3 linked regions of the Homo sapiens genome follow. The protein of the gene in region 3 purifies or fractionates together with the protein of the main gene of each other region. This does not show direct contact. Each region holds a gene or a part of one and is shown on either strand. Other genes may lie near its edges.

Evidence for each region.
Region 1: the proteins of PTPN3 (region 3) and ACOT8 purify together in Homo sapiens (affinity purification with mass spectrometry; 2 studies listed by BioGRID and IntAct, with this or other methods). This does not show direct contact.
Region 2: the proteins of PTPN3 (region 3) and YWHAE purify together in Homo sapiens (affinity purification with mass spectrometry; 5 studies listed by BioGRID and IntAct, with this or other methods). This does not show direct contact.

What each region holds. Positions count from the first base shown.
Region 1 is NC_000020.11:45,850,780-45,854,430, reverse strand, and holds part of ACOT8 (acyl-coenzyme A thioesterase 8), read left to right. Parts: intron 1-477; exon of another isoform or gene 478-508; intron 509-3,651. UniProt on the Homo sapiens protein: Catalyzes the hydrolysis of acyl-CoAs into free fatty acids and coenzyme A (CoASH), regulating their respective intracellular levels. Displays no strong substrate specificity with respect to the carboxylic acid moiety of Acyl-CoAs.
Region 2 is NC_000017.11:1,390,151-1,393,801, reverse strand, and holds part of YWHAE (14-3-3 protein epsilon), read left to right. Parts: intron 1-3,651. UniProt on the Homo sapiens protein: Adapter protein implicated in the regulation of a large spectrum of both general and specialized signaling pathways. Binds to a large number of partners, usually by recognition of a phosphoserine or phosphothreonine motif.
Region 3 is NC_000009.12:109,491,752-109,495,402, reverse strand, and holds part of PTPN3 (tyrosine-protein phosphatase non-receptor type 3), read left to right. Parts: intron 1-3,651.

The sequences.
Region 1 (3,651 bases), on a different chromosome or scaffold from region 3:
GGACCATCCTAGCTAACACGGTGAAACCCCGTCTCTACTAAAAATATAAAAAAATTAGCCAGGTGTGGTGGTGGGTGCCTGTAGTCCCAGCTACTCGGGAGGCTGAGGCAGGAGAATGGTGTGAACCCGGAAGGCGGAGCTTGCAGTGAGCCAAGATCGTGCCACTGCACTCCAGCCTGGGCGAGCACTCCAGCCTGGGCAACAGAGCGAGACTCTGTCTCAAAAACAAAAAACCTATGTGTGGTGGCTCATGCCTATAATCCCCGCACATTGGGAGGCCAATGCGGAGAATTGTTGGAACCCAGGAATTCAAGACCAGCCAGGGCAATAAATCGAGACCTTGTCTCTACAAAAAAATAAATAAAAGGAAAATAAAAGCAAAACCTATGCTAAAAAACAAACAAAAAAAACCCTCACTGTTTTCTTTCCTTCCCTGTTACCCCCAGAGCAGATGCCCTCATGTGTTCTGCGTAGATCCCCAGCTGAGAAGAGTTTGTGGACCTTTACAGTATGTGATTTGTATTAAGAAAACCATGGGGTTTCCCCCTTCATTTTGTAAATATGAAAGTTATCCCTGTAATGGTAAATACACTTTTTCATACTGTCCCGTGTCTCTTACTCCTCATCCCTGAGGAGTATTGATTGGCCCCCCTCTTCTCGGCCCCCAGTCACTGCTATAAAGTATTTGAATACTTACCTTGGGCTCAGCCAGGTTCTTATCTTTATGCTAGTTGGGAGTAAATATGTGCTTTGTTTCTTTAATTTGTTTGTAAGTACCAGCCTTTTGATATTGTAATCCTTCCAGCCTAGTGAAATACCTGGCTGTTTTCTTTTGTGTGGGTGGGGGCATTACTTGAACTCTGAATCTCTTCATCCTGTGATGGAAGAATTCAATGAGTCTTTGCCAGTAAAGTATCTAGTGCAGGGCTTGGCATAATCTAGTTTTCCATAAATATTATTAGTTTTTGATGATTAACTTATGGGAATAATTAAAATTTGCATGATACAGAGCATAGTTGTGTGCATTATCTTGTTTAGTCTTCATAAGTAAACATGGGTGGCAGGCATTCCTGCCATCATTCTTACCTAAGGAAACTGGGACCTGAAGAGGTTTGGAACCAGCTCCCACAGTGCCCAAGGAGGCAGAGCCAGGATTTGAACCTGGTTTATGTGTCTTTGAGTGCCAAACTCTTTCCTGCTTCTTTGCTTCGCTCTTGGGCAATAATTCTAAACAATGAGAGAGCTGCCAGGGTACCCATCCCAGGTTCTGGGGAAAAGATCCTCTTTCTTGGAAAGTCTTCATCCAGGAGCAGCGTGAAATGAGCTGTGTCCAAGCCACCATTTCAAAATAAATAATTATTTGGCCGGGCGTGGTGGCTCATGCCTGTAATCCTAGCACTTTGGGAAGCCGAGGCGGGCGGATCACCTGAGCTCAGGAGTTCGAGACCAGCCTGGGCAACATGGTGAAACCCAGTCTCTACTAAAATACTAAAAATTAGCCAGGCATGGCGGCATGTGCCTGTAGTCCCAGCTACTCAGGAGGCTGAGGTAGGAGAATTGCTTGAACTCAGGAGGCGGAGGTTGCAGTGAGCTGAGATCATGCTACTGTACTCCAGCCTGGGCGACAGAGCGAGACTCTTGTCTCCATCAAAAATAAATAAATAAATAAAAATAATTATTTGTGCCCTTGCTTGTGTCTTGAAAGGCTGCAAGATAGCTAAAATAATTGGTAGTTATTATGGGAATATTAAAAGTCAAAGGACATTAGGCCAGTAGTAATGGGATTTGGGAGAAGCGATCATGTCAAAAAATTTGGCTAAGCCATATTGTTGCAGTTTCATACAAGGTTTAGTTCTGAGCTTCCTGGCTGCAAGGCAAAAAGGGGAGAGCTCTTATCTGTTTGTGGTGTGACTCTGCCAGCTATATCAGATATTAAAACCAATGCTGTTTTTTGGCTGGGCATGTGGCTTATGCCTGTAATCCCAGGACTTTGGGAGGCCGAGGCGGGCAGATCGGCTGAGGTCAAGAGTTCGAGACCAGCCTGGACAATGTGGCGAAACTCCATCTCTACTAAAAAAAAAAAACACACACAAAAATTAGCCAGGTGTGGTGGTGCACACCTGTAGTCCTAGCTACTCAGGAGGCTGAGTCAGGAGAATCGCTTGAACCCTGGAGGTGGAGGTTGCAGTGAGCTGAGATCGTGCTACTGTACTCCAGCCTGGGTGACAGAGCAAGACTCCATCTAAAAAAAAAAAGGAAAATTAGCTGGGCGTGGTGACCTTAGCCCGTGATCCCAGCTACTCGGGAGGCTGAGGCTGAGGCTGAGGCAAGGAGAATTGCTTGAACCCGGCGGCTGGAGGTCGCAGTGAGCTAAAACTGCGCCACTGCACTCCCACCTGGGCGACAGATCGAGACTCCATCTCAAAAAAACAAAACAAAAAAGAGATGTTTCAATTACATTTTAAAAATAAAAGATGTTATGGGGGAGGGGGAGGGTTGGTCCTTGGCCATTTATCAAATCAGTTCTTTTTCTAAAAGCCCAGGAAAGAATGTGAATTAGTTGGGTTTTTGTTTTGTTTTTAGTTTTTCTCTACAGAGGTAAATTTAGAGCTTGAAGAATTCAGAACAAGGTCAGCAAACATTCTAGAAAGGGCCAGATAGTAAACATTTTAGGTTTTGCCAGTGAAAGCAACTATAGACAATATGTAAACAAATTAGCATGACTTTATTACAAAAAAATTGTATTTTAAGGCAACAGTTTCCTCATCTGTACAATGGGGGTAAGAGTGGCTCTACATAGTTATTGTGAGACCAACATGAGAAAACATACCCTCCTGTCCAATGCTGTCAGGCACCCTGCATCACTCCATAATCATTAACTCCCTTCAATATGCCTCAGGGCCTACCTGCTCTGTTCCAATAACAATTTTCAAGAATAGGGCTGGAACTCATTCACACTGAAAGGTAGACCAGAGTACTGAAGTTTCTGTGATCCTCCTCAGGAATCTGCACTTTAGCTTACCTGCAGACCAAGGATTGGATTAGAGGTTTTTTTTTGTTTTTTCCCCCCAAGTTTGGTGGTAGGGAGGAAGACTTCATTCCCAGTGTCTGAAAGCAGACTGCACAAGTAACTTTGTCTAGTGTCTGGACTCTTGGTAAGCCCTTCTCAAATGCCTTTAACCTTGAGGAGCTCGCACTCTGATAGAAGTGCTGCTGGTGGCAGTGCCTGATAACAGAGAGCTGAGCAAGCCAGTTGACCTCAGACAGTGATGTTTATTGCTGTTGATTGAGCCCTGGTGCCTGGTTGACTCCCCATTTGGATCAGAGTGAAGGAAGCAACACTTCTCTAGACCTGCTTCTTTCATCTGAAGGTTGAAAGTCATCCCCAAGATGTCTCATGGCCCAGATGTCAGGGTTCCTCAAGGTCAGCCTGACTCAGACAAAGTGAGAACTTCAGGGAAACCAGGGAAGTTCTCTTCCTCTCCAAATCTTCCCTCACCTGCTTGTTGTTGGCTGCCTTATCCCTGGCCAGTGCCTTCTACTCTGGTGGTGGTGGTCTTGTTGTTTTTGAGACAAGGTCTTGCTCTGTCACCTAGGCTGGAGCACAGTGACGCAGTCATGGCTCACTGCAGCCTTGATCTCCTGGCCTCA
Region 2 (3,651 bases), on a different chromosome or scaffold from region 3:
ATGATTTATTGTAGGCAGATGTCACCTCTTTAAGCAAAAGAAAAAAACAACCAAAAAAAGAAAAGCCCCAGCCGGGTTCCGCGGCTCAAACACCTGCAATCCCAGCACTGTGGGAGGCCGAGGTGGGCGGATCACCTGAGGTCAGGAGTTTGAGACCATCCTGACCAACATGGTGAAAACCAGTCTCTACTAAAAATACAAAAATTAGCTGGCCTGTGATGGCTTGTGCCTTTAGTCCCAGCTACTGAGGAGGCTGAGGTGGGAAATCGCTTGACCCTGGGAGGTGGAGATTGCAGTGAGCCCACATCGCACCATTGCACTCCAGTCTGGGCCACAGAGGGAGAGCCTGTCTCAAGAAAAGAAAAGCCCCGTAGTTTATCATAATGTCTGTACTGGGATATGGCTGATGCTATGCATTTCTGTAAAGTAGCTTTAAAATATTTTCTCCTCTCACTTTTATCTTTTTCCTTTTTTTTTTTTTGAGACAGGGTCTCACTTGGTCACCCAGGCTGTAGTGCAGTGGTGCGATCTTGGCTCACTGCAGCCTCTACCTTCCAGTCTCAGGTGATCCCCCCACCTCAGCCTCTTAAGTAGCTGTTTTTTTTGTTTGTTTGTATGTTTTTAAATTTTATTTATTTATTTATTTATTTATTTATTTATTTATTTTTTGGAGAGATGGAGTCTTGCTCTGTCACCCAGGCTGGAGTGCTGGAGTACAGTGGCGCGATCCACCACTCCCAGCTAATTTCTTTTGTGTTTTAGTAGAGATGGGGTTTCACCATGTTGCCCAGGCTGGTCTTGGAATTCCTGGACTCAAGCAATCTGTCAGACTTGGCCTCCCAAAGTGCTGGGATTATAGGCGTGAGCCACCACCCCCGGCCACCTTTGTCTTAGTGAATGCTATTAAGTTGTTAGGTTAGTGATGTAGTCATACAACTTTTTTTTTTTTTTGAGATGGATTTTCCCTCTTGTCATTCAGGCTGGAGTGCAGTGGCGTGATCTTGGCTCACTGCAGCCTCCGCCTCCTGGGCTCAAGTGATTCTCCTGCCTCAGCCTCCCGAGTAGCTGAGACTACAGACTTGGGCCATCATGCTTGGCTAATTTTTGTATTTTTAGTAGAGACAGAGTTTCACCATATTAGCCAGGCTGGTCTTCAACTCCTGACCTCAGGTAGTCCGCCTGCCTCAGCCTCCCAAAATGCTGGGATTATAGGTGTGAGCCACCGCACCCGGCCAGATATAGACATACAACTTCTAGGAGGGACAAAGGTTGGCATATGATTCACCAGTGTTGTTCCGGGTGGTTGGCTAGATAGCTGTCTAATGGAATCCATTAAGGAGTAGGAAAGAGCAGCAAGAAAAATGGCTATTTTCACTATTTTTGAAATGGTCAGTTAACAGTTTGAGATAGATACATATACTTTTTTGAGACAAGGTCTTGCTTTGTTGGCCAGGCTTGGATTGCATTGATGCAGTAACGATTCACTGCATCCTCAACCTCCCAGGCCCAAATGATCATCCCATCTCAGCCTCCCACTTAGCTGGGCCCACAGCTGTGCACCACAATACCTGGATAATTTAAAAGAACTTTTTTTTCTTTTTCTTTTTCTTTTTTCCCGAGACAAGATCTCAGTATATTACTCAGGCTGGGATGCAGTGTCACATTTATGGCTCACTGCAGCTTTGACCCCCTGGGCACCTCAGCATGCCAAGTAGCTGGGGCTACAGAAGTATACCACCACTTCTGGCTAATTTTTGTAGAGACAGGATTTTACCATGTTGCCCAGGTCTTGAACTCGAGCTCAAGATTCACCTGCCTCGGCCTCCCAAAGTTTTGCGATTACAGGCGTGAGCCACCATGGCTGGCAAAAAAATTTTTTTGGTAGAGGCCTGGTCCCAGCGGATTGCCCAGGCTGATGTTGAACTCCTGAGCTCATGTGATCTTCCCACCAGGTAGCTGGTACCGCCATGACCAGCTAATTAAAACTTTTTTTTTGTGGAGACGGGATCCCACTGTGTTGTCCAGGTAACTCCTGGGTTCAAGCGATCCTCCCACTGTGGCCTCCCCAAAGTGCAGGGATTATAGGCATGAACCACTGCGCCCGGCCAGCTTGATATATTTAGGTATTGATATATCCAAATTGACGAATTGGTTGCCAACAGAACCTCATGGTTCTCTGACTAAATGTTAATGCTAGTCATGGCCCTAAGAACAATTTCAGATGTTCATTTAAATTTATTAAATTGTAGCAAATAATAATGAAAGTCACCATAATTTAACATCCACATGAGTATATCTTGAAAAGACAGACTAATTCATCAGCTACAACAGCAGGCATAAACTGGGATTGTCCTGGGCAACAAACTTGCCTTGTGGTCACCCTACTTAATGGCCATTTGTTACTAGATTTTGTCATTTAGACTCATACAACAGTTTCCTAAACGTTGTCCAGCTTTTTATCACAGAGATAGCTTAGATCTACGTCTCTAGGAGGTTGAATTTTTTTTTTTCAAATGAAGTTAGCCTTTGGCAGAATATAAGTCAAAGGAAAAGTGAAAATTTCCTCCTCCTAGCTCCCTCCCCCACAAATGGGAACGTGCTAGTTAAGGATGTGGTAGTTGCTGAAAATAGAGCTTGCTGGCATTCCAAATCCTCTGATGGTGTCAACACCTAGTGTGTTGGTTTTCTTATGGCTACCTTGAGCCAGTTCTGTGTTTAAAAATATAATAGACCTAGGTGTTGGTAGCAGTGTCCTAAGCTCAGAGCTTTCCCTACATACATTTTATTTTTTTATTTTTACAAGTGTCTTTCATACCAAATACCCACATAAAAATTTAAAGGCTCACCCATATCTTGTTACAACTGTTATGTTTAGAATGCCAAACTGTGTAGTTCAGACCATATGACCATGATCCTGGCTTATCTCTTCTGAAATTTTTATCTTGAATTTATTGCCCTTCCAACAATCTACCATAGTAGCTGGACGGATCTGTTGTTGGTGGGCTTGATTTGTGATCAGATCAGGATTTTATCGAGCTAAAGCAATATGAAATGTGTTTAACTCTTCATTCATATCTAAAGTTTGAAGGAGATGCATTACTGTAAGAGTTATGACAGTATTTCATCATTTGGCAGATGTGGTAAATCTGCCATCACAGAATGCACAGGAATCACTGGGTTCCTTATCTTTCAAATGGGGATTAGTGATGTCTCTCTTGCCTACTAATTTGCAGGGTGGTTATGAAATTTTGGGCTTTTGTAAACTGTAAAGTGTAATACTTGTCGGTACTATTTGTTGTGAAACATTCTTATCTAATGTGAAAGGTCAGATAATTGTTTTTGTTACTGCTGTGCTAGGATCATATTAGATGATAACCTACCTTTTTGAGTTATTCTTAGCAAGTGTAGTCTTCTGGGCTTAGTCCTTATGTAAGATATGCACAAAGAAATATTCTCAAAATCCTTAATCTTACATCTGTAAATTTGCATATCCAAAGTAAAGGTCGTCCAGATTATTCCCAAATAATAATTTTGTCATGTTGAGCTGGTATATAGTTGTTTTGATATTAATTTTAGATTAATAAGAGACTTTCTCCTTAGCAAACGTAACACCTTTTGTCTGAATTTGGGATGAAAGCTGCTGTAATATGA
Region 3 (3,651 bases):
AGACATGGCACCCTGCCTTTCCCCAACCCTCCGGGTTTGTGGTGGTTGAGAAAAGACCAGCAATTTGTGGTCCCTACATCTTTTCCCAGGAGAGCTCACCTTCCAGCATTGCGGTCCTGGAAAGCAGGGACAATGCCTCTTTATCTTTTCCCAAGATCTGTTGTAGAAGCTGGAATGCTGAAGGCACCCAGCACATACCCTGGTCTGGAAGGGCTGGTGGGGGTGCAGTAGCCTACCCAGCATCAGCTCTTCATTCCAACTCTAATAGAGACAGGAGGAGACCAGGTCAGTGTCCACACTGCTCTTGGCTGGGTCCAGGTGACCTCAGAGCCTGATCTTATAGATGTCTTCTTTCCTCTGGCCGAGAAGGACCTGAGAAGTGCTTGGTAAGCCCCTGGCTGAAAACTGATTTGGTAATGGGTTCTAAGACCCAGAAATGTTGCATCTCCAGAGCTTCTGCTTGTGTGTGCACCTGAAGCTTCCCACTGCCCCCAGGTTAACTTGTTATTCCAAGACCAGGTGTGAGCACAGATTTAACAGCAAATTGAGACATTTATTGAGTCTCTACCATGTATTAGGCCATAGGGCTACAGAGGTGAACGCTGAACCCCTGCCTTGGAAGGATTCATGGTGGATTTGGAAAGACAGTTTGTATATGTGTATGTGCGTCCCCATCCATCTGTCCATGGTCCTGTAAGTACTTTAAAAGGATAAGCTAGGTGCAAGAGACACCAGAGGATGCAGCCATTCATTCCGATGGGCATCAGGAGACACTGTGGAGCGTAGTTCTAACCATGGGGAGAAGTTAGTTCTAACTTCAAGGCATAATTTGAATTAAGCCTCAAACTTAGGAACAAGATGGCATTTAGGGCAGGCAAAACAGCAGGGGCAAAGGCATGAAGAGACTTTGTGGATCATAGGCGTGGTGATTCTTCTCCAAGTCCAACCTGGTCTTTTTTGTTTTTTGAGACAAGGTCTCACTCTGTCATCAGGCTGGAGTGCAGTGGCCCGATCATGGCTCAAGCAGTCCTCCTTGTACCTCGCACCTGGGACTACAGGCATGTGCCACCACACCCAGCTAATTTTTTATTTTTTGTGGAGACAAAGTCTTACTATGTTGCCCAAGCTGGTCTCGAACTCCTGGGCTCAAACAGTCCTCCTGCCTTGGCCTCCCAAAGTGTGGAGATATAGGCGTGAGCCACCGCACCCAGCCAAATCCAGCCTCTTGGTGTTCACTAATGCAGAACCCACCTGCTCTGGTTCGGGTCTGCTTTATCTCTGTACATGGGCCAGGCCTCACCTAGCCCAGGGCTAAGTGCCTATTCTCCTTGTTTTCACCTGGATGGGAGCAATGCCACTGTGTTGTCTTTGAGGCAGGAGTAACTTCTGCAGGGATGCCTCTGGTTTTAGTTATCAGCACTAATCTGTACTTATTGGTTGCCACACACTGTTGTGAGTGCTCTCCAAATAGTAACTTAATTCATTTAATCTTCACAGCAACCCTGTCGCCAGGCTGCCTCCCAGGTACAAGTAGGTGGGGGCTGAACTCCTCTGCCCAGTGTATGTCCCTCTGTGGGTGATGCTCTGATTGTGGCCCGGCCTCCCCCTGGCTGCCTTTACATAGATGTGCCGGGAAACAGCCCAGTCTGAATTGCAGTGGAGCACTGACCCCATTTCCTTTAGGGGACCGGCAGGACTGTGCTGACTGCGTTTTCTGAACCAAAGAACGGGATCTGTAGTGTGAAAAAAGAATGTGTGTGCCACTGCTTTGTGCAAGAGGAGGCCTGAGAAGTGTTTGGATACTGAGAGAGTGGAATTTTTGAAACATTTTGATGGTTTATATGGAAAGTTAGGACAGAGGATTTGAAATTGGAATAGTCCTGGAAAATTGAGGTCCCATGATTTACTGTTAGGATACACAAGCTTTTAGTAAATGTTTAAGCAGTGTAGAGTGAAGTGAATTTTTTTTACTGAGCCCCCATAGGGAACAAACAGTGCATTTTAGCCTCAAAATCTGACTGATTCCTTCCAGCCCCATTTTACAGAGGGGGTGAGAAAACTGAGGCTCAGAGAGATGAAGTAACCACCAAAGAGCACAGTGTTTGTAAGCAGTGCAGCCGAGATTTGTCTTTTTGGTTTTTGTTTGTTTGTTTGTTTTTTAAATATAGAGAAAGGGTCTCGCCATGTTGCCAGGCTGGTCTTGAATTCCTCGGCTCAACTGATCTTCCTGCCTCAGCCTCTCAAAGTGCTGGAATCACAGGCGTGAACCACTGTGCCTGGCTGCAGCCAACATTTGAACCCAAGTCTGTGCCTAGACAAATCATCTGTTGTCAAAGTCAAATAAAATATAAAAACAGATGTTTCTCTAAATTTAAAACATTTTGCTTGGGAAGTAAGAATAATAATTTGGGAAATCTATACAGACTAGGTGGTCTTTGGTTTGGAAAACAAAGAGAATGTTGGGAGTTTTATTAGAATGAGAAATATTATGTATTGTTTTGAAAAAAGTCCATCGGCACTAGAGAAGCTCTTCGGGAGCTGGCAAGCTCTGATTGTTGCATGATGGTAGCAGATAAAACTAGTCTTAGGGTCACAGCAATTTGTTTCAGTAGTTATTAAATAAAACTGGTTTTAGGTTATAACAGGCAGTTTTAGCAGCCACGCTTGCAGAGAATTACATTTTTGGAGCAATGTTATGTGCCCTGAGTATTTTTCCCCTGGCCTCTCAACTCTGATTTAGTTGGGCATTACAATAATGACCCAAATTGTATAATCAACTTCCACCCTGTAAAATGAGGATCATAATTGCACCTATTCCCTTTAAGTTGACTGTTGTCAATGAGCTAATGTGGAAAACTAAGGCAAAACTTGGCATAGAAAAGGGGTCCCTCACTTTGTGGTCAGACCCCTGACCCTCCAGACAAGTGCTTTGATCTGTGTTCAGTGCTGAGAGTCGCTGTGGGTGAGTGAAGGTCCCTCCTCAGCCAGGACCACAGGTCCCGGTTCTCAGGACTGAAGGGATATTCCAAGAGGGAGCATCCAGGACTGTGCAGGGGCCATGGCTGCCTGAATGCTGTGCTGATGAGGGTCCCCTGGCGTAGGAGTGGGGTTGGAGACCTGGCCCATGCATGTCACCTCCCTCAGCCACATCAGCTCAAGGGCTAGCCCAGAGGTTCTCGGTGAGGGAGGCAGCAACCAGCTCCATCAGCTGTTTTTTGACCGCCAGCCACCATTGGGCCTGGGGAGGGGAGGTTGGCCTCTGAGCTCAGTCTTCCCCACTGGCTCCCCCGAGTCCCCTCCCCTGCTCTGGTTATCAAATGCATTCATGGTTCTTGTAGAAAATAAAGTGTCAGGGAACACAAGAAAAATTATGCATGATGCTTCTCTGAAAGCAGCTGGTCCACTGTCAGCACTGCCATGATCTGCACATGCCCTCTCCTGCTTCCAGTGGATTCTCTACTCCACAGACGGGGGAGTCTTCCATACACTCCTATTTTTCTCAAAATGAAGACAAAGCTGATCTCTCAGCATCTCCTGCAGGCCCTATGTTCATGCTCTTTGAGCCCTCACCTCACCGTGCTCCTTCCTGCTGCAGGGACTGCAAGAGCCTGGGACCTTCTCCCCCTCCCCACTGATTACTTCATCCTGTGG